Linked DNA regions of Homo sapiens: region 1 is linked to region 2. A link means that fine-mapping ties the variant in region 2 to the expression of a gene that starts in the linked region. Tissue or cell type: whole blood. Region 2 holds a variant in brackets; the other region holds the start of a gene. All regions are shown on one strand. Distances are from middle to middle.

Evidence for each region. PIP is the estimated chance that this variant, and not a neighbour inherited with it, causes the effect.
Region 1: it holds the start of ZGLP1, and the variant in region 2 is fine-mapped to the expression of ZGLP1 in whole blood (TOPMed, PIP above 0.99).

Annotation. Positions count from the first base shown.
Region 1 is chr19:10,308,452-10,310,951 of GRCh38, forward strand. ZGLP1 (zinc finger GATA like protein 1) reads right to left here and starts at 1,364. Exons shown (of 5, transcript NM_001409033.1): 1 at 898-1,364; 2 at 1-99. The coding sequence starts at 1,034. It overlaps FDX2 (ferredoxin 2), which reads right to left. Exons shown (of 5, transcript NM_001397406.1): 4 at 2,402-2,489; 5 at 1,594-2,191. The coding sequence ends at 2,035. FDX2-ZGLP1 (FDX2-ZGLP1 readthrough) reads right to left here. Exons shown (of 9, transcript NR_176052.1): 4 at 2,402-2,489; 5 at 898-2,191; 6 at 1-99.
Region 2 is chr19:10,503,642-10,506,397 of GRCh38, forward strand. No RefSeq gene overlaps it. Among named protein-coding and RNA genes, the nearest start is that of KEAP1, 1.7 kb to the left of the region's middle. The variant G/C (reference allele first, on the strand shown) is at 1,560.

The DNA of each region.
Region 1 (2,500 bases), 200 kb before region 2:
ACCGGGGTGTCCTGGGCAGGGGACTGACCCAGCCTCTCCACTGTCTCTTGGAGGAAGCACAGGGCGGTGACCGACTCCTGGCATGCAGGCCAGAGGGACCTGGGGAGAAGGGCAGTGGGGTCACGTTTTCTTGGGTGACTCCTGGGTTTAGCCGGCCAGGGGGTTCCAACTTGGGCCGGCTCTTTGTGTACCCTTGGACAGGCTACACACCCCACCTGAGGTTCAGTCATTTCTAACTCTGGGTGGAAGGTTTAAGAGTTGCAGTAATTGCAACTCACCTCGCCCACTGTGGGCCTCCCAGGCACGCCCAGCCCTCCACATCAATCAACCCCTTACGGCACCCGTAGATCACCCAGGCAGGGACCGCCCTAGGTGACCGAGGCAGGATATCAAGCCTCTGGCTGCAGGATCGAGAAAAAGGTTACTTTTTTTCTTTGTGTTTCTTTTAGAGACCGAGCCTCACTCTGTACCCCCGCCTGGAGTGCAGGGGCGTGATCAGGACTCAGTGCAGCCTAGAACTCCTGGGCTCGACCGATCCTTCCGCCTCAGCCTCCCGAGTAGCTGGGACTTACAGGCACGCGCCACCACGCCGCTGGCTTGCCATAATATGATTACGATTTTTATCATTTTCATTATTATTGAGTTGCCCTCCATAACCCCTGGATGATCCCTGGGGAGTGCCTACATCAGCCCCAGAGACATGGAATTGCATGGCCTCTGATCCCTAGATGACCCCAAGTGTCTCTGGGCACCAGAACCTCTTTGTAAGTTTCAGTAACTATTATAAAATTGCCACTTCTCGATAACCCCAGCAAAGAGAGGTCATGACCCCTTGATCACTGAGCCAGGTGGTGAAGTGCTAGCGGGGTCCGGGGAATGGGGTTTGGCCTTACGCACCTCTCACTGATTCTGCAGCATCCTGGGGTCCTCGGCTTCTCCTGGGAGGGGGATCCTCCCAGCCGCTCCAGGTTCAGACAGGGCGGCGCCAGAAGCTTTGCTGGCATTGAGGAGTCCGGGATTGGCTCGGCCTCCATTGCGCCCCAGCCCAGCCCCCTCCCTAATTTCACCCGGCCCTGTCCCGCTGGGCCCACCCGATGAAACCCACCTGGGAGGGGCGGGACCTGTGTGGTGGGAGCGCTCTTGGTAGAGGATGCGATGAGCCCCAGCTGAGAGCGACCAGCCTCGGCGGCACCTTTCCTCTTTCTGGCTTTTTTCAGGTCATCCGCGCACCCCTGCGTGGCAAGGGCGGCCTGGACCCCACCAAATCCCTCCGCAGCTGCCGGGGCGGGGCCTTCCACGCTAGCCCTCCCCCTCGGAAATGGGGGCTCCCAGGCCTCTGCCTTGGATCCCCAGCGGCATCTTAGATCCCAGAGGGAAAAGAGAACCGGGGGCCCAGCACAGCAGATGCAGGTGTGGTTTGTTTTTGTTTTTGTTTTTTTTTTTTTTGAGACAGGGCCTCACTCTGTCACCCAGGCTGGAGTGGAATGGCCTGATCACCGCTCCACTGCAGCCTAAATCCCCTGGGCTCAAGTGATCCTCCCACCTCAGTCTCCCGAGTAGCTGGGACTACAGGCACTTACCACCACTCCACGCTAATTTTTACTGTTTTTATAGAGACGAGGTCTCGCCATGTTGCCCAGGATGGTCTTAAGCTCCTGGCCTCAAGTGATCCTCCCATCTTGGCTTCCCAAAGTGCTAGGATTACAGGTGTGAGCCACCTGTAGACCCCAGATCTGTCCCCCAAGGACACTCAACATGCTGGGGCCTGTGTTATCGATTTATTGCAGCTCCAATATGAGTCCACTCCTACTCAAACCCTGATTCTCAGGGGCCTGGGGAAGGCCACCCCACTAGGGGCCCTGTCCCCACCAGAGCCTGGACATGGGACTCTCTCCCAAGCAGGGGTGTTGTCCTTCACAGGGGCTTCCACGTCTCTCCCGGGCCTGTCCGCACTCTGGGCAGGGCTGGCACCTGGCTATTCCCTCAATCTGGGCCCTGGGGCCATGGCAATGTGGAATGGTCCAGGTGTTCATGTCAGTGGGGCTTGGGGACATGGCCATCCACGTAGAAGTTCCTGGTGATCTTGGGCAGGGTGAATTCCGCTCCTTCCAGCTCCGGTGTCAGCACAATCTGGCAGCCCAGCCGCGAGTTCTCCTGGAGGAGGGGGGCCATGTCTAGCATGTCGTCTTCCCTAGGGTGGTGACACGGGCAGTGTTAGCCGAGGGCAAGCTAGCTGGGTGGGTGGGGGGCCAGAGGTGGGGGAGGGAGGAAGCTGACTGAGCGCAGGGGGTAGTGGTGGGGGAGGCAGCTCCCATTCCAGGAACTGGAAGTGGGGAGGATGGTGGGGGCTGCTGAATGCTCCAGGGTGAAGCTGCCAGCTAGACAGGGCTGACCCACTCACCTCTCCTCGGGAGGAGGCAGGAGATCCAGGTGGTCTTCACTCACATACACATGGCAGGTGGAGCAGGCCAGGGAGGCTTCACAGGCCCCTAGGGGTGGG
Region 2 (2,756 bases):
CTTTTCTTTTCTTTTCTTTCTTTCTTTCTTTTTTTTTTTCCTTTAGAGACAAGGTCTCGCTCTGATCTGCACGCCCAGGCTGGAGTGCAGTGGCGCAATCGCGGCTCACTGCAGCCTTGAGCTCCTGGCCTCAAGCGATCCTCCCACCTCAGCCTCCTGAGTAGCTGGGACCACAGACAGGCGCCACCACACCCGGCTAATTTTTAGTTTTTGTTTGTTTGTTTGTTTTTCTGTAGAGATGGGGTCTCGCAATGTTGCCCAGGCTGGTCTTGAACACCTGGGTTTAAGAGATCCTGACTCCATTGGCCTCCCAAAGTTCTGGGATTATAGGTGTGAGGCGCTGTGCCCAGGCCTCAGGTTTTCCTTGTCTTTTTTTTTTTTTTTTTTTTTTAATTGAGACAGAGTCTCTCACTGTCACCTGGGCTGGAGTGCAGTAGCTCGATCTTGGCTCACTGCAACCTCCGCCTCCCGGGTTCAAAAAATTCTGCCTCAGCCTCCCGAGTAGCTGGGATTACAGGCGCCCGCCATCATACCCAGCTAATTTTTTGTATTTTTAGTACAGATGGGGTTTCACCATGTTGGCCAGGATGGTCTCAAACCCCTGACCTCATGATCCGCCCGCCTCGGCCTCCCAAAGTGTTGGGATTACAGGCGTGAGCCACCGCGCCCGGCCTTCCTTGTCTTTATTTTTGATTTACTTCCTATCAAGAGGCGTGTGGCACCCGTCTTTGGGGGGTTCAAACCCTGGATCTGCCTCTTACCAGCTCAGTGCCCGTGGGCGCTTACTTAGTTCTCTATGGTTCAGTTTCCTCTCTATAAAAAGTAATAATATAATAGCACCTACCTACCAGATTATCATTAAGACTAAATGCGGGGCCGGGCGCGGTGACTCACACCTGTAATCCCAGCATTTTGGGAGGCCGAGGCAGGCGGATCACGAGGTCGGGAGATCGAGACCATCCTGGCTAACATGATAAAACCCCGTCTCTACTAAAAATACAAAAAATTAGCCGGGCGTGGTGGCGGGCGCCTGTAGTCCCAGGTACACAGGAGGCTGAGGCAGGAGAATGGCGTGAACCCGGGAGGCGGAGCGTGCAGTGAGCCAAGATCACCGCACTGCACTCCAGCCTGCGCCACAGAGCGAGGCTCTGACTCAAAAAAATAAATAAGTAAATAAAAAATAAAAATATTAAATGCGAATGCTGGCTCCCAAGAGACAGAAACCATTGCTATTTTTCATGACTGGGGATACTGATTTGTCATGCACACCGTTTATCATGTAACGTTAACTTTTAAATAAATGTATGTAAGTTTATTTTAAAGAATTCATCTAGGCTGGGTGCGGTGGCTCACATCTGTAATCCCAGCACTTTGGGAGCCGAGGTGGGTGGATCACGAGATCAGGAGTTCAAGACCAGCCTGGCCAACATGGTGAAACCCCCATCTCTACTAAAAATACAAAAATTAACCGGGCGTGGTGGCGGGCGCCTGTAATCCCCAGCTACTCGGGAGGCTGAGGCAGAGAATTGCTTGAACCCGGGAGGCAGAGGTTGCAGTGA[G/C]CAGAGATCGCGCCACCACACTCCAGCCTGTGCAACAGAGTGAGACTCTGTCTCAAAAAAAAAAAAAAAAAAAGAAAAAAAAAGAATTCATCTAAATTTCATCCAAATTATAATTATTTTTAAAAGATAGAGAGGCCAGGCGCAGTGGCTCATGCTTGTAATCCTAGCACTTTGGTAGGCCAAGACGGGTGGATCACCTGAGGTTAGGAGTTCGAGACCGGCCTGACCAATATGGTGAGACCGCCGTCTCTACTAAATACAAAAAATTAACCGGGTGTGGTGGTGGGTAAGTGAAGGTTGCAGTGAGCCGAAATCCTGCCATTGCACTCCAGCCTGAGCAACAGCGCGAGACTACGTCTCGAAAGGAAAAGAAAAAAAAAAAAGATAGATGGGATTTCGCCATGTAAGTGAATAATAAATGGAAACTCTAGGCCCCTGGAGCCTCCAGGGTGAATTTGAAAGATTGAACGTCCTGGCTCAGGGTCTGGAAGGAATCACGTGTAGGGCTACGTTGGAGTTACCCCGCTACCCCAAATCCTTGTTGCGTGTAGATGCAGTTCCAGACAGCTCCTCAGGGGGGCGGCCTAGATAGTCCGTGAACACGCTGAGTGGCCGAGGTTGTAACCAGCGCCTTCCTGGCACGTTGCAGAAAACAACCTCTCTAATATCTCTCAAAATCAAACCTACAGGTCCAGTGAGCCAGGTGCTTGTAGAGATTTATCCAAGGTGCACTCGCACACATACAGGAGGAAGCATGTGCACACATTCATTGCATTATAATGCATATCATGGCAAAAGGACTGGATCCCATTCACATGTCCCTCTGTAGAGCCCTGGCTTAATCAGTGGTGGCACATCCTTGCTAAGAAATACTATGCAGCCAGTTAAAAGGAGCAGTACATTTACTGTATGGATATGTACCTAGATCTTCTATTTTTTCTTTTCTCTTTTTCTTTTTCGATTTTCATTTATTTATTTATTTATTTATTTATTTATTTTTGAGACGGAGTCTCGCACTGTCACCCGGGTTGGTGTGCAGTGGTGTGATCTTGGCTTGCTGCAACCTCTGCATCCCGGGTTCAAGCGATTCTTCTACCTCAGCCTCCCAAGTAGCTAGGATTACAGGTGCCTGCCACCATACCCAGCTAATTTTTTGTATTTTTAGTACAGACAGCGTTTCATCATGTTGGTCAGGCT